Linked DNA regions of Homo sapiens: regions 2 and 3 are each linked to region 1. The links come from fine-mapping of genetic effects on gene expression. A gene starts in region 1. Each other region holds a variant in brackets. All regions are shown on one strand. Distances are between the middles of the regions. Region 1 holds the start of SEC11A (SEC11 homolog A, signal peptidase complex subunit). Region 2 overlaps SEC11A (SEC11 homolog A, signal peptidase complex subunit). Region 3 has its middle 12 kb from the start of LINC00933.

Region 1 (8,240 bases):
CTTACAAAACTGAAACATACTCTTTTCTTTTTTTTCTTTTTTTTTTTTTTTTGAGATAGAGCCTTGCTCTGTCGCCCAGGCTGGAGTGCAGTGGTGCGATCTGGGCTCACTGCAACCTCTGCCTCCCAGGTTGAAGCAATTCTCCTGCCTCAGCCTCCTGAGTAGCTGGGATTACAGGTGCGCACCACCATGCTCGGCTAATTTTTGTATTTTTAGTAGAGACAGGGTTTCACCATGTTGGCCAGGCTGGTCTTGAACTCCTGAGCTCAGGCAATCCACCTGCTCGGCCTCCCAAAGTGCTGGATTACAGGCATGAGCCACTGCGTCCAGCCTAAAAACTGATTAAAACTCCAAAGAATACATACTCTATGATTCCATTTATATAAAATGCATACCCCTCTATACTGACAAAAAGCACATTAGAGGTGGGACAGAACGGGTCTTGTAGGTGATATATACGTTCTATATCTTGATTGTGATCAGTATACGTAAGTATAAAAACTTATCGGCCGGCCGGGAGCAGTGGCTCACGCCTGTAATCCTAGCATTTTGGAAGGCCGAGGCAGGCGGATCACAAGGTCAGGAGATCAAGACCATGGTGAAACCCTGTCTCTACTAAAAATACAAAAAATTAGCCGGGTGTGGTGGCGGGTGCCTGTAGTCCCAGCTACTTGGGAGGCTGAGGCAGGAGAATGGCGTGAACCTGGGAGGTGGAGCTTGCAGTGAGTCAAGATTGCACTACTGCACTCCAGCCTGGGCAACAGAGTGAGACTCCGTCTCAAAAAAAAAAAAAAAACACTTATCAAATGGTACACTTTAAATGGATGGAGTTCATTTACTAAAGTATTCCTCTGTGGATCTGATAAGAAAAAAAAAACAAAAACTCAAAGCAATCAGACATTTAACATATATGTAATATGTAATTAGGTATAAGCAGAGAAGTTATGCAAATAATAGCAACTTTTAGAGGAATAAAACAAAATTCTAGTTTCCCTCTTTCGTCTGATTCTCAGTATCTACATGTATTGTCAATTCTTCCTCCTAGATATTATGTACAGATAAAGATCTCATTTCATAACTCTCCCTCACCCCATGTTATCCAATCCCTCCTATCCATTCCTAACAACCTCTGGGAGGCCAGGGAGGATAATTTTACCATTTAAACTTCCACTAACCCTGAATGTCCTAGATGCAATGAATTCTGAACCACAATCACTCCATATTAGAGAAACACAGGGCAGAGTAGCCTATTCATTGTATCTTCATGTTTCTGTTCTTTCTTCCTGTCCATTTTATTAGAGCAGGAAGAGTACCTTATATATCTCTATGCTTTAGAGCCTATCTAGCAGGTTTGCAAGTGCTGAGTGAATTCCTTCCCTTTTGATTATTGGAATGCTAACCAACCCAGGTTAAAGATGAAGCTATTAAGGTCTTTCAAGATCCAACTTAAATGCTAGTTTCTCCTTGAAGCTGTTCGTAATGCCCTGACTGGAACCTCTCAAAATTTTCCTACCACTGCTAGAACAGGTCATATCCTTCTTTATCCAAGTGTTCAGGCTTTAAAGTAAGACCTGAGATCAAATCCACATCCTGCCATATACCTTCTTTTTTTTTTTTTTTTTTTTTTGAGACGGAGTCTCACTCTGTCACCAGGCTGGAGTGCGGTGGCACGATCTCAGCTCACTGCAATCTCCACCTCCCAGGCGATTCCCCTGCCTCAGCCTCCTGAGTAGCTGGAACTACAGGCGTGCGCCAACAGGCCCAGCTAGTATCTGTATTTTTAGTAGAGAGGGGGTTTCACCATGTTGGCCAGGATGGTCTCAATCTCTTGACATTGTGATCCGCCTGCCTCAGCCTCCCAAAGTGCTGGGATTACAGGCGTGAGCCACCGCACCCAGTCTACCTTCTGTCTTAAGCAAATCACTAAAGCTCTCTAACAATGACATCGACCACAGTACAGCCAATACTCACCATGTGCCAGACACTCTTCTGAGGGCTTTATATGAATTAACTCATTTAATCTTCATAGCGACCCTACGTTTGCACAACATAGTGAATGCAACTAATGTCAGTGAAGTATACACGTAAAAACGGTTGAAATGGAATATTTTATGTTGCATATCTTTTTACAACAATAAAAGTAAACATAGGCACAGACAGGTTAAGTAATCTGCTCAAAGTCACACAGCCAGTAAGTAGCAGAGCTACTTCAAACCTCTGAAATCTAGCTTTAGAGTCCATATTCTTAACTTCTATACTGTATTGCTTCTCACAAAGTCTCATTTTCTTCATGTTTAATAAGAACAACGTTACCTACCTTACAGGTGTATAAAGTGCTTCACACATGGCAAGAGCTCAAAAAAGTTATTGTTTTGCCTTAGTCCTTTTCTACACATTTAGGCTCCTTGAAGGCCGAGTCTTTCTTAACTATCTTTGCATTTCTCTCATTGTACCTAGCATAGAGTACAATAAATATCAGACTCAAAATAAATACTTTCCTCAGAGAAATATCTGTGGCATCTAGAAATCCAAATATGGATTAAAAAAAGACAACACTATACAAGTAAAAATTTGAAGTGTTGTCATAAAGACATAAAGTAACGTTTGCGCAATTTTTATAGAATGCTCAATTCTGACTGACAGAATTGACACTGAGCTAGCTAAGGCCTGAAGGGGAGTAAGGAAAGGTTGTGTATCTACTTCCCTAAGTGGCAGTTATAAGTACAAAAAATGCAAGTCCAAGGAAAAAAAATCCTTAATGGTGACATCAGGATAATCATAACAGTAAAATACTGTTTAAAACAAAAAAAAAGTCCGATGCAGCAAAACTAGGCTCTACAGACACACTAGGCGCAAAAGATAAAACAGAACAACCTTTTCTAAGGACTAAATAATTACAACAATATTCTCAGTACTATTTGGCATACGATCTAGAAGATCAAAGTAAAGTGTAAGGACAAAATCAGGAGACCTACATTTCCAGATCCCCGTGGCACTGATATTGGACTGTAAAACCATAGATTCCGAGGGCTGCCGCCTTAGTGCTAAGCGGACGCAAGGGCAAGTAGTGTAACTGTTCCAACTCGGAGCCCAGAGTGGTCCAAGTCAAAGTCGGTGCAGCCCGCTACGGTTCAGCTCTACTAAAGGGTTGCAAGGAGCTGAAAGCAGCAAAACGGTTTTTGTGGGGCCTCCAATCGCCTTCCTGAGCGCCCCAGAAACCGGCTAAACCTCGTCTCTCCCGAAACCACCTGGAGTCGCTCCGACTGGAGAAATCAAGAGTCCGCCGCCTTAAAATGACTAAAACAATAAGCAACCCCAACTCCCACTTCAAGCGCGTACGGTTTCCATTTGCTCCCCTGCCTCAGTGGGAGGAATGGAACGTGAAGACACCGCTTCCCGCCCCGCCCCCGGTAGGCCCTGAATCAGTTCGGGGTTAAAAATAATGAGGCGGACAAGGCGGCCTCTGGCCACAGTCTCCAAAGAAAGCGAATGACCCGGGTATCAGACCAGCTCAGACCCTCACACCAGAACCCTGGGGTCCGCCGGGCCCCGCAGCAGCAGCCTCGAAGGGACAAGAAGAGCCAGGAGAAAAAGAGGACGGACAAGCTCACCTGCCGCTTGTTCATCCGCCGCACATCGTCCAAAAAGTCTAGAGACAGCATGGCGGGGACGGCGAGCAGGACACCGGCAGGGGAAAGGGCGCGATGACCAGCGGGCGGAACTACTGGAGCTCGGGTCGGGCTCACACTGGACAGGACCCCGCAGTGCTTGCACTTCCGCTTCCGGGGCGGGAGCTGGCACGGTCGGGCACGGTCCCCGCCCCCCGCGCCCCTTCGCTGCGGAGAGCTGACAGAGAGACTCACGACCTTGCTAGTCCAGTCTCAGGGCTTGGCCTCGCCGTGGGAGGGTTCTCACGCTCTGGCTCTCGCCTGCCAAAAACCGACTGGACGCCACTTCCCGCGCTCGGCCCCGCGGCCCTTCACCGAGGCGGCGACCCAGGCTTAGTTGGGGAGGCTGCTCTGCCACCTTCGGAAGGCGGGCCTCTGTGCCCGCCCGGCCAATCGCGAGCAACCTCTCCGGTGTGGGCGGGTAGAAGCGGTTCCGCGTCCCGGCTTGGGTATGGGTGTGGCAGTGGATGTGTCGTCTGACCGTAGGTTCTCTGGTCGAGCAAGTCTCCTGCGCTATGGGAAGCTGAGGAGGTGCTTTCTTTCTTTCTGTCTCTGTCTCTCTTTCTTTACGTCTCTGTCTCTGTTGAGGTGCTTGCTTGCTTGCTTGCTTACTTTCTGTCTGTCTGTCTCTTTCTCTTTTTCTTTCTCTTTCTCTCTTTCCTTTCTTTCTCACTGTGTCGCCCAGGCTGGAGTGCAGTGGCGCAATCTCAGCTCACTGCAACCTCCGCCTCGCGGGTTCAGGCGATTCTCCTGCCTCAGGCTCCCAAGTAGCTGGGACTACAGGCGCGCGCCACCAAACCTGGCTAATTTTTGTATTTTTAGTAGAGACAGGGTTTCACTATGTTGGCCAGGCTGGTCTCGAACTCTTGAGCTCAGGTGATCCGCCCGCCTTGGCGTCCCAAAGTGCTGGGATTACAGTCGTGAGCCACCGCGCCCGGCCATCGAGGTGCTTTCAATAAGTGCTTTTCGCGTAAGGTTGGACCGTGTGAGAGACCTTCCGAGCACTGCCTGAGCCTGCCAGGAGTTTACAGTCCAATTGGAGAGAAAACAGCCCGGGAGAATTAGAAAACATCCAAATGGTGCAACAGCGTGATGAGACCACCAGTGGTGTGGGTCGTTAGGAAGTGGCTTCCTTTCTGACCTTGACTTTGCTGACAGGATTTGACATGGTCTCCTTGAATTCTACCTCCTGGTTTTCTTAACTTGGACACCTTGAAGTGACTATCTTTTCGCTACCTTTTGCTTTGACTGGCCAAAGCTCCTAATACGCACTTCAGTCAACAAAGACTAAAGCTGGATTACTTGGTATCATTTCTCTCTCTTTTTTTTTTTTTTTTTTTTTTTTCAAAATAATCCTTCTCTCCCATTAGGGAAAGATGAATGAAGGATATACTGGAACTCTTTGTAGTATCCTCGAAATTCTTTAAATGGAAAGTCATTCCAAAATAAAAACTTGAATTTATTGGAGGATGGCTGTAATAAAAAAGACAAATAATAATAAGTTTAGGGGAAGATGTGAAGAAATTGGAACCCTCATATACTGCTGGTGGGAATGTAAAATGGTGCAGCCACTTTGGGAAATAGCTGCAGTTGCTCAAAAGGTTAAAGATGTGCCGTCTGCAGTGGCTCATGCCTGTAATCCCAGCACTTTGGGAGGCTGAGGCAGGCAGATCACCTGAGGTCAGGAGTTCCAGACTAGCCTGGCCAACATGGTGAAAACCCGTCTTTACTAAAGATACAAAAATTAGGCGGGTGTGGTGGTGGGCACCTGTAATCTCAGCTACTGGGGAGGCTGAGGCAGGAGAATCGCTTGAACCCAGGAGGCAGAGTTTGCGGTGAGCCGAGATCGTGCCACTGCACTCCAACCTGGGCGACAAAGTGAGACCCTATCTCAAAACACACAAACAAAAAAAGGTTAAAGATGGAATCACCATATTAACCAGCAATTCCACTGCTAGGTATATACCCAAGAAAATTGAAAACGTTTGTCCACACAAAAACTTGTACATGAATGTTCACAGCAGCATTATTCATAATAGCTAAAAAGTGGAAATAACTGAAATGTTTATCAACTAATGAAGGGATAAATAAATGTGGTATATTGGAATAATGTACTAATAATTCCGCTGGTACAATGGAATATTAATCTGGCAACAAAAGGAAATACTACAACATGAATGACCCTTGAAACAGATTTAGTGAAAGGATCCAGTCACAAAAGACAAAGCATTGCATGATTCCATTTAGGTGAAATATCTAGAATAGACAAATCCACAGAGATGGAAATCAGTGGTTGCCTAGGGCTGGGAGAGTTGGGGAAAATGGGGAGTGGCTGCTAATGGGTATGGAGTTTCTTTTAGGGGATGCTAGTTCTACAACTATGTGAATATACTCAAAACCATTAAATTGTACACTTTACACTGGTGAATTGTATGGTATGTGTATTATATCACAATAAAGCTATTATGAGAAAGAAAAAGAAACCACTGGTGTCTGGCTCACTGTTAAATTCCTAGTGGTGAACACATAGCCTAGCACATGTTATACCCAATAAATACTTGTTGAATTTAAAAGTGTGTGTGTGTGTGTGTGTGTATTTTTGTCACCTCCAAAAACTGCTGCCTCTAGGCACCCCACACTTATTGAGTTGAAAAAAAATTCCTAATTTATCCAATTTAGGAAGACTTGTGGAAGAAAATACATGTGAACTCCATGAGGACAGGGACATTGTCTTGTCCACCCCTTTATCTCCAGCTTCCATAAGAGTACCAGACATGTAGCAGACACTCAATAAGTATTTGTTAATAAATGTTAAATATGGGTTCTAGTCTAAATTCTCGCTAGTAGAACCCTTGGCCTATGCCTATTAATGTTGAATTCAAATCTAAAAGTGAGCGCCAGCAACTATTTAAATGAGTATCAATCTTGTAATGTGTAGAAAAGAGCCCTAAGAGAGGCGTAAAGTCCTGTGGAGTTTCAGATGTGGCAAAAGTCAGTTCAGTTGGGGAGGCTTGTGGGGAGCTTAAAAAGGGTGTCAGGCCAGGCACGGTGGCTCACGCCTGTAATCCCAGCACTTTGAGAAGCCAAGGGGGAAAGATCCCTTTGGCCCAGGAGTTCAAGACCAGCCTGGACAACAAAGTGAGACCTCTGCTCTACTAAAACTAAAAATTAGGCCAGGCACGGTGGCTCATGTCTGTAATCCCAGCACTTTGGGAGGCCGAGGCAGATGGATCACCTGAGGTCGAGTTTGAGACCAGCCTGGCCAACATGGTGAAACCCCGTCTCTACTAAAAATACAAAACTTAGCCAGGCATGGTGGCAGGTGCCTGTAGTCCCAGCTACTCGGAGGCTGAGGCAGGAAAATCGCTTGATCCCGGGGGGCAGAGGTTGCAGTGAGCCAAGATCACACCATTGCATTCCAGCCTGAGCAATGGAGTGAGACTCTGTCTTAAAAAAAAAAAGAATGCATGAGAAAGGAACGGGACCAGGGGAGAGTGATATAAACTAGGAGGATCTGCAAAGGCTTAATGAGGTTTCTTATACTGCTCGGTGTCTCTTATGAAAATAATTCAGATATTTAGGACAGGTGATCCCAGACTTGATATAAAGCCTAAGGAATTCAATTTTCCAAATGTGGGACTCTGACATGCTATTTTCTCTGCCGACTGGGATGGCAATCTTTCTGACACATAAGTCTTTTGGGCCCTGTCAATCACAGTGTTATGTCTGGCATTTTCCTTTACAGAGAGCCTGCTGGCCCCCCTGAAGGAAGCATCTTAGTATAGAAGTTAAGTTAGACCCACTTGGCTTTGAATCACAGATCAATTGCCAGCTGTTTGATCTTGGACCAATTAGTTAACTCTTTTTCCAAAAAAATTTATTTAATTTAATGTTTCTACAGACAGAGTCTCACTCTGTCACCCAGGCTGGAGTGCAGTGATGTGATCACCCTTCACTGAAGCCTAGACCACTGAAGCCTAGATTGCTCAAGCAATCCTCCCACTCAGCCTCCCAAGTAGCTGGGACTGCAGGCGCATGCCACCATGCCCAACTCAGTTAGCAATTTTTTAATCCCTAGTTTTCTGGTGTGTAAAGTAGGAATAGAAAAGAATTTATGTCATTTGAGGATTTAACAAAATAGTACATGTAAATAAGGCTGTTGGGGGCTGGGCATGGTGGCTGACGCCTGTAATCCCAATACTTTGAGAGGCCAAGGTGGGCAGATTACTCGAGCCCAGGAGTTCGAGACCAACCTGGGCAACATAGTGGAAGCCTCATCTCTACAGAAAATTTTAAAAATTAGCCAGGTGTGGGGACACATGCCTGTAGTTCCAGCTACTCGGGAGGCTGAGTCAGGAGGATCGATTGAGTCCTGAAAGTTGATCCCTTAGTGAGCCATAATTGTGCTACTGCACTCCAGTCTTGGCGACAAAGAGAGACTCTATCTCAAAAAATAAATAAAATAAATAAATAAATAAATAAAGCTGTTGTCACAATGGATGACAAATGGTAAGTGGACAAAGAATTTAATAATTATTCAAAACAAGAAGTGGGTTCAAACTGATACACAAA
Region 2 (8,000 bases), 24 kb before region 1:
AGATTTTTGCCTAAGAATTTCCGAAGCCAGGAAAAGATTCAATTCCATGGTAACAAGTAAGACTAACTTCTACAGAGTATCTTCTTACCTCTTACCTCTTCCATCCTACGCCAAGTGCTGAAAAGGTCCTAAGATATTTGCACTAATTTATGAACCCCTTTTTATCTATAAAGAAGTAGCCCATCAGTCTTTTTCAGAAACTCAAGCTCCGGTTTTCTATAACAACAGCTTAAGTAAGAATAGAAAGACAAGAAATAAAGTTCAACGCAGGAATAAGTACAAACTCCAAACACTTTTGTTTAAAGACTCTCTTCCCTCTATGTAAAGGGATATGGCAGTGGGTCTCAAATTTTGCTGCACATTGGAATGACCTGAGGGACTTTTAAAAAATCTCAGCCAGGTGCGGTGGCTCACACCTGTAATTCCAGCACTTCGGGAGGCCGAGGTGGGCAGGTGACCTGAGGTCAGGAGTTCGTGACCAGCCTGATCAACACAGTGAAACCCAGTCTCAACTAAAAATACAAAAATTAGGTGAGCATGGTGGCGCACGCCTGTAATCCCAGCTACTCAGGAGGCTGACGCAGAAGAATCACTTGAACCCAGGAGGTGGAGGTTGAATGGGCTGAGATTGCGCCATTGCACTCCAGCCTGGGCAATACAGTGAGACTCTGTCTCAAAAAAAAAAAAAAAAGAAGAAGAAGAAAAGAAAAAAAAGAAAAGAAAAGAAACTGGGGGCCAGGCACGATGGTTCAAGCCTATCATCCCAGCACTTGGGAGGTTGAGGGGGGAGGATCACTTGAGATCAGGAGTTCAAGACTCAGTCTCTGTAAAAAAAAAATTAGCCAAGTGTGATGGCACACTCCAGTCTGGGCGATGGAGGGAGGCCCTGTGTTAAATGTTCTTATCACAAAAAAATAGAAAGGGAAGAAACTTTTGAAAGTGATGAATATATTCACTTGCTTGATTGTGATGATGGTTTCACAGGAATATACTTACCTGCAAATTGATCAAGTTGTATACATTAAATATGTACAGCTTTTTGTATGTCAATCATATCTCGATAATTTGGTTAAAAAAGAGTAATCTAAGTACTATTACTTAGGTTCTAGATAATGTTAATGCACTATTATTTAGATTCTAGATAATATTAATAATTCCATTTATTTTAAATATGCACTCCATTATCTCCAGAAAAGATCTGGGCTTACAAAATTAAGCCCAAAATATGACAAAACTGTAATGTTTCTTTTCTTTCTTTTTTTTTTTTTTTTTGAGACAAAATTTCAATTGTCACCCAGGCTGGAGTGCAATGGAGCGATCTCCGCTCACTGCAATCTCCGCCTCCTAGGTTCAAGCAATTCTCCTGCCTCAGCCTCCTGAGTAGCTGGGACTACAGGCGCCTGCCACCACGCCCAGCTAATTTTTGTATTTTTAGTAGAGATGGGGTTTCAACATGCTGGCCAGGCTGGTCTCGAACTCCTAGCCTCAAGTGATCTGCCCGCCTTGGCCTTCCAAAGTGCTGGGATTACAGGTGTGAGCCACCACACCCAGCCTATAATGTTTCAGTCAAACAACCAAGTGGTAATTCTCTAAAAATGAGTTACTAAATTAGGTTTTAAAATCACTAAGAGTGGTTGCGCATGGTGGCTCATGCTTGTAATCCCAGCATGTTGGGAGGCCAAGGTGGGAGGATCCTTGAACCCAGGAGTTCAAGACCAGACTGGGCAACACAGTGAGATCCTATCTGCTACGGTTTGGCTGTGTCCCCACCCAAATCTCATCTTGAATTCCCACGTGTTTTGGGAGGGACCCAGCAGGAGGTAACTGAATCATGGGGCAGGTTTTTCCTGTGCTGTTCTAGTAACAGTGAATAAGTCTCACGAGATCTGATGGTTTTAAAAAGGGGAGTTCCCCTGCAAAAGCTCTCTTCTCTTGTCTGCCGCCATGTGAGACCTGCCTTTCACCTTCTGCCATGATTGTGGGGCCTCCCCAGTCACGTGGAACTGTAAGTCCAGTAAACCTCTTTCTTTCGTAAATTGCCCAGTCTTGGGTACGTCTTTATCAGCAGCATGAAAATGGACTAATACACCGTCTCTACAAAAAAATTAAAAAATTAACCAGGCATGGTGGGGCAGGCCTGCAGTCCCACCTGCTCAGGAGGCTAAAATGGAAGGATCCCTTGAGACCGGTAGGTGGAGTCTGCAGTGAGTTATGACGGCGCCACTGCACTCTATCCTGGGTAACAGAGCGAGACCCCATCTTTAAAAAAAATATTCACTAAGAGTATGAGTGCAAAGATAGGGAAGGAAGCAGAGTGGAGAAAAAAAATTCAGTACTATTTGTCACCATAAGAGATGGTATTAATGCCTTCAAAATTCCTGGAGTCTAGTTTAGAAGTGATATTTAAAGGTCAGCAGGAAACTTGGAAATAATTAGTGATGATTCTATCCTGACATTGAGAACATGCTACAGAAAAACTCTTAATTTGTGGAAGTACTATAACATCTAATGAACTAACAACTAAATATCAGGCCTGGTGTATCAAAATGAGGAATATAAAAAGACAGAAGAATTTCAGGAAAATAAAGTACAACGAGACACTTTATTAAGGGATGTGACAAAAACAAACCTTAACATGGTAACTTTTTTGTAGAAAGGTCATGAGCCCTTTGGAGTTCTGAATGGAAATGCCTAACAAAGTAAGAATTTCTTTTCTCTCTTTTTTTTTTTTTTTTTGGAGACAGGGTCTCGCTCTGTCACCCAGGCTGAAGTGCAGTGGTGCAATCACAACTCACTGCAGGCCTCAACCTCTAGGGCTTAGGTGATCCTCCCACCTCAGCCTCCCGAGTAGCTGAGACTACAGGTCCATGCCACCACACCCGCTAATTTTTGTATTTTTTGTGGAGACAGGGTTTCACCACGTTGCCCAAGCTAGTCTCAAATTCCATAGCTCAAGTAATCCACCGGCCTCAGCATCCCAAATTGGTGGGATTACAGGCATAAGCCACCGTGCCCAGCCTGAGAATTTCTTACAACTGATAAGTAGTGACTAATTTTCTTCCAGGCCCTTTTCTGGAAAAGAGTAGTTTCTAAGAGAATGATATGCCAGTTATTTCATATCTCAATTTTTCTCCCAAGTAATGCCATGCAATTCCATGCCTTGAAAGGAAAAACTGTTACCTGAGCACCACTACAATCGGACTTTCACTTCCAGTTATTACCATTAACCCCTTCCAGATCATTAGTGCCGATGAGACAATCATTCCAAAATTTAGGACTTGATAATAGAGCTGCAAGAACAAA[A/G]CAGAAGAGATCAGATCCACCATTATCCCCACTTCGGAAAGCAACTGAAAGCAGTAACAATTTGAAAGTTTCAAGCAGTACTATTAGGACAACTACAGTTCTGAGACATTCTTTAATACATTATAATAATTATGCCATCAGCAGATCAAAACAGGCCCCCCTTCTTTCACCCAAAGCACCCTGCTCCATTTTGTTTGGTAAAACATCAGTTACATTTATATAACACCATATTATTTTAAGAACATTTCACACAAGTTATTTCATTTGGGCTCCATAATCATTCAGCTTAAATTTATCACTCATGCTACTTACCAGCCAAGAGTAATCTGTCTCTGCTTCTGAACTCCTCTATTACTTTTTCTTTTTCTTTTTTTTTTTTTTTTTGAGATGGAGCCTCGCTCTTGCTCAGTCACCCAGGCTGGAGTACAGTGGTGCCATCTCAGCTCACTGCAACCTCTGTCTCCTGGGTTCAAGAAATTCTCCTGCCTCAGCCTCCCGAGTCGCTGGGACTACAGGCATGCGTCATCACGCCCAGCTAATTTTTTTGAATTTTTAGTAGAAACTGGGTTTCACCATGTTGATCAGGCTGGTCTCGAACTCTTGACCTCAAATGATCTGCCCACCTCCACCTCCTAAAGGGCTGGGATTACAGGCGTGAGTCACCACACCCGGCCCTCTATTACTTTTCTACTATACTTATCCCTTGATAATCATGGGAATAGTTAATGACATTTAACTCTACCTTCTCATTTTACAGTTAAGGAAACTGTCTCGAAAAGAGGAGACTTCACCAAGTCCTAAGCTTATCAGTCACATAGTCAAGACTTGAAGGTCAGCCTTCTTACTAAATTTCCAGTACTCCAACAAACTCTAAAATTCTGTGACTTGAATAAACAGATAAAACACCAGACGGCATTTCAATTTCAAATAAAGAAAATTCAGAACACGTGGAAAAAGGCAAAAAATATTACAAAATCAGATAAGATAAATAATGTGAGCTAACTGTTTTGGGCCAAGGCTGGAAAAAGTATAGAGAGGATGACTAGACACCATGGCAAATAGTTCAAGGAAAAAGCTGGTACTGGAAAGTACTGGGAGAAATCTGAAAAAGCATATATTAAGGTCCAACTATGAAGAAACTTAAACACAGGACTGAAACTGTGGATCTAACAAAATATTAGTAATATAAAGTGAAAAAACAGAAGTTTCAAAAGGTCTTACTCTGTTGCCCAGGCTGGAGTGCAGTGGCACAATCACAGCTCACTGCAGCCTCCAACTCCTGGGCTCAAGCAATCCTCCCACTTCAGCCTCCCGAGTAGCCAGACGTGGTAATTTTTGTATGTTTTGTAGGGATGAGGTTTCGCCATATTGCCCAGGCTGATCTTGAACTCCTGGGCTCAAGCAATCCGCCTACTTCAGCCTCCCAAAGGGCTGGGATTACAGGTATGAGCCACCATGCCTGGTCACTTTTGTTAATATTTGCTTGTGGACATTCTACACAACTGTCCTAGTCTCTTCAAAAATCCAATGTCATTCAATGTCATGGAAAAAAAGGTGGAAGACTGTTCTAGATTAAAAAGTACTAAAGAGATATAACAACCAAATGTAACGCACAAACTTTGGTTTCTTTGTTGTTTTTTTCTTCTCATTCAGTTCTAATAATGCACAAACTTTGGCTGGATCTTGGTTCAAAAAAAAAAAAGCATAAGAAAAAATCTGAATATTTTGGGGTGAACTGGGGAAACTCAAAATATGATTTGAATATTAAATGACATTAGGAAATTCATGTTTTCTTTTTTTCTCTTCTTTTTTTTTTTTGAGACAGGGTCTTGCTCTATCACACAGGCTGGAGTGCAGTGACATGATCTCAGCTCACTGCAACCTCTACCTCCCAAGTTCAAGTGATTCTCGTGCCATAGCCTCCCAAGTAGCTGGGATTACAATGGGCATGCATCATCACGCCCGGCCAATTTTTGTATTTTTAGTAGAGACGGGGTTTCACCATGCTGGCCAGACTGGTCTCAAACTCCTGGCCTCAAGCAATCCACCCGCCTTGACGTCCCAAAGTGCTGGGATGACAGATGTGAGCCACTGTACCCGGCCTCTAATTTTCTTAAATTATGTGATAATGGTGTTGTGGTTATGTGGAATACTATCCTTATCACAGGAGATGCATATTAGTAGTAGTTAGCTAGTAGTTGTAGTTAGGGGTGAATTCTCATATCTGCAACTCATTTTCAAGTGATTCAGCAAAAGAAAATTCTATATATGCACACACACATAAGTATACATAGAACAAATATGGCCAAAATGCTAATAATTGTTGGATCTGTGTGACAGATTACAGGTGTTCCCTGTACTGTTTTTTCAATTTTTTCTGAAAAATTCCAAAAAATGCATAGAAAATATGGAAGAAGCCAGGTGCAGTGGCTCACATCTGTAATCCCAGCAATTTGGGAGGCTGAGGTGGGTGGATCACTTGAGGCCAGAAGTAGGAGACCAGCCTGGCCAACATGGCGAAACCCCATCTCTACTAAAAACACAAAAATTAGCTGGGTGTGGTGGGACATGCCTGTAATCCCAGCTACTCAAAAGGCTGAAGCACAAGAATCACTTGAACCCAGGAGGCGGGGGTTGCAGTAAGCTGAGATCGCACCACTGCACTCCAGCCTGGGCAACTGAGCAAGACTCTCTCAAAAAAAAAAAGGAAGAAAATAAAATAAATGTTAGTTGTTATATTTGGGGGTGTAATACTAGGCAATTCTTATTTATTTCATTTTGATCATCTACATTTTCTACTTCCCTTTTTAAATCAATTGTTATTTTTAATCAAAACAGTATACACACATACATACAAGAATATGTAAAAAAAAGCAATATCCTAGCCATGGCAGGCCACCTACATCAACCATTTTCATCTCTTCTAGCTATTCATTCTGGTGTTTACCCCAACCACTCTAAAAACTGTTTGTTTACTTTCATACTAGGGTGTTAATGCATGATGTTCAAAATGTACAATGAGGGGCTAGGCACAGAGACTCATGCCTGTAATCCCAACACTTTGGGAGGCTGAGGTGGGAGGATCACTTGAGCCTAGGAGTTCGAGACCAGAAAGCAAGACCTTTATCTCTACAAAAAAAAATACAAAAAAAGGCCGAGTGCAGTGGCTCACGCCTGTAATCCCAGCACTTTGAGAGGCCGAGGCAGGCGGATCACGAGGTCAGGAGTTTAAGACCAGCCTGGCCAACATGGTGAAACCCCATCTCTACTAAAAATACAAAAATTAGCCAGGCGCAGTGGCGTGTGCCTGTAATTCCAGCTACTCGGGAGGCTGAGGCAGGAGAATTGCTTGAACCCGGGAGGTAGAGGTTGCAGTGAGCTGAGATCGCACCATTGCATTCCAGCCTGGGCGACACAGCAAGACTCCATCTAAAAAAAAAAAAAAAAAAAAAAAAAAAAAGAAGGTAGAGGAAAATTTAGCACACTAAATAGAGATGCGGATGATTAAAAAAAAATATCCAGAGGCTGGGCTCGGTGGCTCACGCATGTAATCCCAGCACTTTGGGAGGCCAAGGCGAGCAGATCACCTGAGGTTGGGAGTTCGAGACTAGCCTGCCCAACATGGAGAAACCCCCATGTCTACTAAAAATACAAAATTAGCTGGGCTTGGTGGCACATGCCTGTAATCTCAGATACTCGGGAGGCTGAGGTGGGAGAATCGCTTGAACCTGGGAGGCGGAGGTTGCAGTGGGCCGAGATCGCACCATTGCACTCCAGCCTGGGCAACAAGGGCGAAACTCCGTCTCAAAAAAAAAAAAAGAAAAATTAGCTGGGTGTGGTGGTGCATGCCTGTAGTCCCAGCTCCTTGGAGGCTGAGGCAGGAGAATCACTTGAACCCAGGACGTAAAGGCTGCAGTGAGCTATGATTGCCCCACTGCATTCTAGCCCAGGTGCCAGAGCAAGACTGTGTCTCAAAAAATAAATACAATTGTGATGAGGAATCCAGCTCTCTTGTACCATTTTCTATTTTCTCCCTACAATTAACCTGTTTTTCCTGCATACTTTTTAAAAACATTTCAAGTTTCATATTCTTCACACTTGATCTTAGCCAAAAGGCCGAGAAGCGATCAAGTTTCATATTCTTATAAATGCACAGTTAATCTCTGAAAAGACAGACAAGAAACTGGAGAAAAGGAACCAGGAGTCAAGGTGGAAGAAAAATATTTTCTGATATACATACTTCATGTTTTTACAGTTTTTACTATATGCAAGTATCACCTGTTCAAAACTAAACTGTTTTGGTTTATTTTTTTAAGTCCACGCTAATGGCCAGAACACTATTCTTCTAGCATTCCAATGAAGCACGGTGTACTCAATCAATGTAATTAATCAATTTCCACAAAAGGAAATATGAACATTTTCGCCGAGACAATTAGAAATATTTGCTGTTCTTTCAGTAATAGAGTGATGTGAGCACATGGATAATCTGAAACCTACTTTGACACTCACATTTACAGGTAAGGAAACTGAGGCACAGAGAAGCTAAGCGACATGCTCATGGCTGCTTGTCTACTGGCTGGCAGAGTAGCACTATTAGAACTCTGGCCTCCTAAATTCTATGTTTTCAAGATGGTGGCTTTTTAAAAGACAAAATGGGTCTTCTTATTCTGAAGGCTGAATTGAAGACGTGGAGTGGG
Region 3 (8,276 bases), 160 kb before region 1:
TTAAGAAGCATAGACAGATTTAAGGAGATGGCATTTCTAGGTGAAGGCAAGTCAATAAGCAAAGACAAACAATGAAAGAAGCAAGAACATTTATGGACCCCAGGAATATTCACAACAAAAAGCTGGTGTTAGGGAAAAGGGCAATTGTTTGCCTGCCATACTAAATACCAGCAGTTCCAAAGAATGAAAATGTTATTTTTAGTATCTAAAACAGAACAAACAATTCAATAGGAACAGAAAAACTAACTTCTAAATAAGTTGAATAATTTTTAAAAAATCATCCTAGTTTGACTTTTGTTTGAGACAATTTATTTTAGCTCTTGAACACTACAGAATTTTTACTTTACCTGACCCATGGGTAGTGGTTGATCTGGCATCTCAACATTCGGGTGCTTAGGAAGGTTATATAATCTGCAGAGTCCACATATCAGCCACTTCCATTGCTGATGAAGCTACAAAACACATTTCAGTAAATAAGCATTATGTTAAAGAGCACTGAGAAGACATCAATAATGGTATGACTACTGCAATCAATCCAGTAGGAAATAAAAAAGTTTGTTACTGCTCAACTGCAGCTTACAGATATTTTAAAAAACTCTTTGAAATATTTTCAGGAGCCTCTAGTTTAAGAAAGTTACTATGGCTTGGTGTATAATCACTACAACTGATACCTAATGGAATGACAACAATAAAGGCAGAGGAAGGAAGTTCCAGACATTGTCCAATTTCTCATTGCTACCTTGTTTTCTTAGAAACTTACAACTTCAAACAAGAGAACATTACTGCATTAATGAGGTGACCCAAAAAGGAAAAAGAAAAAAAACCACACACAGGCAGTATTGTTACACATGGATTATAAAATTATATATTCCAGTCATAGTTAAAAGTACAAAAGCAAATGTGATCCAGCAGACAGAGCCTGGAAATCTAGATGACCTTGGATATCATATCTAATTCCTTGAGTTTCAGTGTACTCATCTGTAAAACAAGGAAATGAAAACTTCCCCGGAATAGTAAAGATTAAATGAAACCTGTAAAACACTTGATACTTAGTAGGCTCTTAAGTGTCTGTCTAAAAAATAATCATTCACTAGGAAACTGCAAAAAATAACTGTAAGTTTCCATGTTTAAGTCCAAATTGTATTGTAAGATTGTTTACTTTAAGGAAATAAGCAAGGTAAACTATGTGCACAAGTGTGGTTTTCATTGTTTAAAATGTTTTTTAATGTATAAGGTGACTCATATGGGATCTAATAAGCACTCACTTCACTTGGTCAGGAACAATTTTCTGGGTGTCTCTGACCAAGAAAAGAGATGAAGAGAAAGAAGCAGGTTTACAAATGACAAAGTAAGAAGACACAGGATTAGAATGGGTTAACAAAGCAAAGAATAAGCCTTCCCAAAGTGAACAATGAAGCAAGTGGAAACAGGAAGGTTGAACCGTAAATTAGGATACACCAAAAATCCTCATGCTTAAAAGGAAGCCAAGCCCCAGTGTGGATTCATTATGCACGCAATGTGCTCTGTTTTGTGCTAAGTATATAATGAAGATGAGGCAGGGTGATCTGGACACAGACCTGCACACTCTGACCTCTGGCACAGAAGGGGCTACAGGAGTGCTGGGGTGAAACAGGAATTAAAAGAAATTAAAGAATGTGAAACTACCATCAGAGTGAACAGGCAACCTACAGAATGGGAGAAAATTTTTGCAATCTTCCCCTCTGACAAAGGACTAATATCCAGAATCTACAAAGAACTTAAACAAATTTACAAGAAAAAAATCAAACAACCCCATCAACAGAGACTTCTCAAAAGAAAACATTTATGCAGCCAACAGACACATGAAAAAACACCCATCATCATTGGCCATCAGAGCAATGCAAATCAAAACCACAATGAGATACCATCTCACACCAGTTAGAATGGCAACCATTAAAAAGTCAGGAAACAACAGGCGCTGGAGAGGATGTGGAGAAATAGGAACACTTTTACACTGTTGGTGGAACTGTAAACTAGTTCAACCATTGTGGAAGACAGTGTGGCAATTCCTCAAGGATCTAGAACTAGAAATACCATTTGACCCAGCCATCCCATTACTGGGTATATACCCAAAGGATTATAAATCATGCTGCTATAAAGACACATGCACACATATGTTTAGTGCGGCACTATTCACAATAGCAAAGACTTGGAACCAACCCAAATGTCCATCAATGATAGACTGGATTAAGAAAATGTGGCACATACACACCATGGAATACTATGCAGCCATAAAAAAGGATGAGTTCATGTCCTTTGTAGGGACATGGATGAAGCTGGAAACCATCATTCTCAGCAAACTATCGCAAGGACAGAAAACCAAACACCACATGTTCTCACTCATAGGTGGGAATTGAACAATGAAAACACTTGGACACAGGATGGGGAACATCACGCACTGGGGCCTGTTGTGGGGTGGGGGGAGGGGAGAGGTATACCTAATGTAAATGATGAGTTAATGGGTACAGCATACCAACATGGCACATGTATACATATGTAAAAAACCTCCACATTATGCACATGTATCCCAGAACTTAAAGTATAAAAATAATAATAAAAAAGAATGTGTAAGCAAACACTGTTTGTTAAAAAAAAAAAAACCGAATTCCCCCTAAGAAAGAAAAAGAGGTGGAGTCCTTTAAAAATTAACTGCCTGTTTTTCTGAGGCTAGTGAACCTCATCTCTCCTCCTCTCCCAGGCATTGTGAAGACCCTGTTTCTCTAGCTGTGCAGCTGCAAGGTCACTAGACAGATAAACTCAAGTTGTAAAACATGTTTTTCCTTGAAAAGTAAGAAATAATGTAATGCATGTCTCAACTGAATAACTGTCTTTGTTTCTTGCTTCTGTAATATGCTTCCCCTTGCACAGATCTCCCCCGAACCCACAAAATGCTTAAAAGGTAACCTGACTCTTTGTTCAGGGCTCAGTCCTTTAGATGTTAATTTGACTGGGCCGGTGCACCTAAATAATAATATATATCCTCCTCAACCCCTCAGTCTCTCGGATTCCTAAATTATCCCACTGCAGTGGGAGAGAGGCAGCAGGTTAGTGAGTCATACCAAGCAACAAGAAAGACAGGGTAGTGGCCAGGCACAGTGGCTCACACCTGTAATCCCAGCAATTTGGGAGGCCGAGGTGGGTGGATGACCTGAGGTCAGGAGTTTGAGACCAGCCTGGCCAACATGATGAAACCTCATCTCTACTAAAAATACAAAAATTAGCTGGGCATGGTGGCAGATGCCTGTAATCCCAGCTACTCAGGAGGTTGAGGCACGAGAATCACTTGAACCCAGGAGGTGGAGGTTGCAGTGAGCCAAGATTGTGCCATTGTACTCCAGCCTGGGTGACCAGAGCGAGGCGAGACTTCATTGCAAGAAAAGAAAGAAAGAAGAGAGAGAGAGAGAGAGAGAGAAAGAGAGAAAGAAAGAAAGAAAGACAGGGTAGTACATTTTCCATGAATTTCAATTTTACTCTCTTCGCCACCACGCACACACACAAAAAGCATTTGAGGGATGGGAAGAAGAAACTGAGATCACAGGGAAAATAGTAAGAACATTCAGAAGGACAGGTCTTAGAAATTTACTAGTTTGGGGGGATAAGAGAACAGTAGCATATAAAAGAACGCTAAGACAGTTCCCAGGTTTAGGCATGGGTGACTACTTTGATTATTTCATTTTGTCCCACTCACAATGACAAGGAGAATTATTGATGGAACACATGATGGGGCTGATAGGGTGCTAGGAGGTGGATACATGAAAATTTAAATATCATCTTGAACACCCACGTCATGCCAAGTGAGATTCCCTAACATATATGATATACAGACAGAAATATGGGTATGAAACTCTGGAGATGAATACAGATTTAGGAATCCCTGGAACACAGGTCATGACTTAAGTAATGGGAGTCAAAGACTA[C/G]TCAGAGAAAGCACAGAATGAGAAGAGAAGAAAGAAGTAGGCCAAGGAAGAAGAGCTCGGAGGAGACCAAGGCAGGGTGATAAGATCAAAACAGGAGAAAATAATCTGATAAAAGTCCCAGTTGATTATCACGTCCCTTCCCAGAGGATAGGGAAATACCTTTTTTGTCTTTTATACCCAATTATCACAGGTCCTGGCACAGAAGCCACACAGTCTTTTTTAATTGTGTTCTACTATTCACAGTTCCCTGTATCCAACAGGGGAGAAAAAAGCAAGTATAAACTAGCACAGACATAGATGTTTTTACACTGTATACTAAAGGGGTCAGATTATATATAATATTTTATGCCTTACTTTTTTACTTAATATATCTTAGAAGTTTGCACATGCTCTTATGGAAAGACTGGCTGCATTTTTTTTGGTCTACAACAGAATATTCTATTATAAAACTGTACACTATAATTTTTATTTAACCAACTCTTTATTGGTGGACATTAAGAACGGAGGAATGTTTCAACAAGGGAACAATCAACATTAACAAAATACTGCAGAGGGGTCAATTTGGGGACTAAGAGGGGAGCCACTGGATTTGGCAACTAGGAGATAAATTTTAGCGCAACGATGAAGGCAGAATCCAGAGTATAATGAGCTCAGTGAAAAAAGGTGAAGACATGTAGCTTATTCTCTCAAGAAACTAGGTTATGATAAACTGGCAGAGGCTCTAAGAGTGGGAGGTGAGTTGTTTTCTCCTTCATGTAAATACATTTACTTTTTTAAACACTAGGCCCAAATTTATATCCTACTTCATTTAAGTTTTGAACATGTTTATGTTGTATGTATGTTATGTAATATTTTAGACACTGAAAAAAACCTCATTTCTGCTATTATAAAACTGTTATCTTTAGATATTCAGAAGCAGCTTCCTAAAAGGAGGTAGCAGTAATGGAGCTATGTCTATCATTCTTTCTATCAACCCCCTTGCTGGAGATGTAAACATGTGTCCATCAAGCCTTTAATTTTTACCTCTTATCTTCATGGCTCTCCATACAAAACTTAACTCTATTTTGTATGTGTATGTGTGTTTATATGTATATCTATGTCTAGAAAGAGAGAGAGAGAGAGTCTTGTTATGTTGCCCAGGCTGATCTCAAACTCCTGAGCTCAAGCAATCTTCTCACCTTGGCCTTGAAAGTGCTGGGATTACAGGTGTGAACCACTGTGCCCAGCCTCAGCCTTAACTCTTAAAACATCTTCAAACCAATGTTGTTCCGTTCTAATTTTTAAGAATAGATGTGTTTTAACCTACTACAACTTATTTTGACAAAAATTGAAGTTAAGACTCAAACTTCCTCAAATGGCCAGTTCTCCTAAAACTATTTATAGAATAATCTATCTTTTCACTAGTAAGTTAAAACACCACCTTTTCCTTATACTAAATTCTCATTTGCATGACTCTGGTTTTAAACTTCCATTACCTTTATCTGTCTGGCCCAGGGCTAGTCCACAATATTTTATTTAATATCTGGTTGAAAGAGTTTATACTTTATTATTTTTTATTATTTACTCTTCTAAACAAATTTTAGAGTCATTTTGTCAAGTGCCAAAAATAAATCTGCTGGAATTTCTACTGAAATTTGTATATATACACATACATACACAATTTATATATATAAAATACAAAATGTGTATATATACACACACTTTTTTTTCTTTTTTCTTTTTTTTTGAGACAGGGTCTCACTCTGTCACCTAGGCTGGAGTTCACAGGCATGATCTCGGCTCACTGCAACCTCTGCCTCCCAGGCTCAAGTGATCCTCCCTCCTCAGCCTAATGAGTAGTTGGAACTACAAGTGTGTGCCACAGACACCCAGCTAATTGTCATCTACCCGCCTCAGCTTCCCAAACTGTTTGGATTACAGGTATGAGCCACTGTGCCCAGCAGAAATTACATTTATAAATTAATATGAAGACATGGTGATAACTAACATATTTATAACATGAAATCTGCTCATCCAGGAACATAGAATGCAAATCTTTCATTCCACTCAGCAAAATTTTGTCCTGTCCTTGATAAAAGCCCTGCACATCTAAGTTTATTCCTAGGTATTTAATTTTTGCTGAAATACCTGAAAAAATACTTCATCACTATATCTTCTATGTGATTATAGCTAACATTGGGGAAGGCTATTGATTTTTATATAAAAGAACTTTTAACCAGTAATCTTAAAATTTTTTTTTCAGTTGGTTCCTTTGGATATTTTTAGGTAAACAATCATGTCAACTGAAAATAATGATTGTTATTTTTCTATAAAGACTATGACATCCTGGGAAAATACAGTAAATACTTTTTAAAAGAATATAAAATGGCTGGGCACAGTGGCTCATGCCTGTAATCCCAGCATTTTGGGAGGCCAAGGTGGGCAGATCACGAGGTCAGGAGATCGAGACCATCCTGGCTAACATGGTGAAACCCCATCTCTACTAAAAAATACAAAAAATTAGCCGGGCATGGTGGTGGGCACCTGTAGTCCCAGCTACTGGGGAGGCTGAGGCAGGAGAATGGTGGGAACCCAGGAGGTAGAGCTTGCAGTGAGCTGAGATCATGCCACTGCACTCCAGCCTGGGTGACAGAGTGAGACTCTGTCACAAAAAAAAAAGAAAAAGAATATAAAACTATAGAGAATATGACCTCAACTATTTAAACATATGTATAAGGGTTATGTATTTTACTAGCAAAGAAAAAATATATACTGGCAGAAAATGGCCATCATGTCAACTGTCAATAGTGGTTATATTAGGTAGATAAATTATGGGAGACTTTAATTTTTTTCTTTTCTCTTTTCTGTACTTTACTAATTTTCTCAACAATGGTTGCTTATGAGTTTTATAATTTAAAAAAGGTTTTTAAAATTTTTCCAACATGGAAAGTTGTACTTCTTTATATACTAAAACAAGAACAAAACTTCCTATTTGAATACCTTTGACTTTTACTGCAGACTTACAGACCCTTGAAAGAAAAGGCAATCCCCTCCCACTAGTTCTGGTGTCATTCTCCCCTTCTCTCCTTTCACTTCCACCTTGGTCTTTTTTCTACTTCCCACCTTGGCTAGTGGTCACTACCCAAAATGCTTGCTTGGCTTAATGGTTAGAATTCAGGGAAAAAGAGATCCTGAATTCCTAATCTAAACTAAGGTTATACATGTGGGAAATAATAAAGAGAATCCAGGTAGTAAGTAAGATTGGAAGGACTTAAAATACCCAGACTTTAATTCCTCTAATATTATAGTCATTAATCATGCTTTTGTTTTTATCATATCTTAATATTTAATTTCTAAATATAATGTTCATGAGGAAAAGAGAAAATAGCTTGGCTTCTTTCCTCACTGAATTGTTTTTCTTAGCATCTTCTAGACATTCCAGAACTGATGTCAGATTTGGCTCATCATAGTCCACAAACCATATTGGTAAAGAAAATGAAGAGGATTCCTGTTTAACACAGAGACACCTATGTTAAACATTACATACAGACTAACCCAAATATGCAATTAAACCACACCACTAAATGGCAAGATGACCATGGATTTAAACAAAATGTATGGGGGAAAAGGCAACACATTAAATTCATGTGAGGAGCTGGACTTCTGAAACAGCCATTCTCCTTGCATAGCACTGTCTGCTGCTACAGCTCATAGAAGTCAACAATTTTCTTCAACACTGGTAGGCAGCCTCTAAATGGCCCTGATCACCCTCACCTCCTGCCATTCACACCCTTGTAAAATTCCACCCCTGGACCTAGTGACTCACTTCTAACAAAGAGAATACAGCAAAAGTAATAACATCACTTCTGAGATGAGGCTACAAGGAGACTACGATGCCTGCTTTGGTCACCCTTCTCCTGCTCTTTCCATTGCTCCCTCTGATGGAAGCCAGTTGCCATGTGATGAGGTGCCCTATGGAGAGGCCCACATGGCAAGGTATTGTAAAAGGCCTCTGACCAATAGCCATCTAGAAACGGAGGCCCAGTCCAGCAGCCTCTGAGGTGAATCCTGCCAGTGTGAGCTTGGAGACAGATTCTCTCCCTATCCTGCCTTGGGATGATCACAGCCGCCATCAACACCTTCACTGCCTGGTGAGAGACCAAGCCAGTGAACCCAAGATAAACTGCACAGAATTCTGACCCACAGAAACTGTGAGATAATGTTTGTTGTTTTAAGCTGCTAAATTTGTTACAGAGCAATAGATAACTAATTCAAACAGCATAAAATTCTAATATTTTATTCTATCACACAAACCAAGTAATACCAAAAATGCCATTACTA

The links. PIP is the estimated chance that this variant, and not a neighbour inherited with it, causes the effect.
Region 2: its variant is fine-mapped to the expression of SEC11A in whole blood (INTERVAL, PIP above 0.99).
Region 3: its variant is fine-mapped to the expression of SEC11A in whole blood (INTERVAL, PIP above 0.99).

Annotation. Positions count from the first base shown.
Region 1 is chr15:84,712,414-84,720,653 of GRCh38, forward strand. It overlaps SEC11A (SEC11 homolog A, signal peptidase complex subunit), which reads right to left and starts at 3,726. Exons shown (of 6, transcript NM_014300.4): 1 at 3,612-3,726. The coding sequence starts at 3,662. RefSeq lists enhancers at 3,379-3,944, 3,400-3,469, 3,945-4,510, 4,140-4,259, 4,280-4,389 and 1 more.
Region 2 is chr15:84,688,355-84,696,354 of GRCh38, forward strand. It overlaps SEC11A (SEC11 homolog A, signal peptidase complex subunit), which reads right to left. Exons shown (of 6, transcript NM_014300.4): 2 at 3,181-3,290. Among named protein-coding and RNA genes, the nearest start is that of SEC11A, 24 kb to the right of the region's middle. The variant A/G (reference allele first, on the strand shown) is at 3,304.
Region 3 is chr15:84,554,619-84,562,894 of GRCh38, forward strand. It overlaps the pseudogene UBE2Q2P1. Among named protein-coding and RNA genes, the nearest start is that of LINC00933, 12 kb to the right of the region's middle. The variant C/G (reference allele first, on the strand shown) is at 3,957.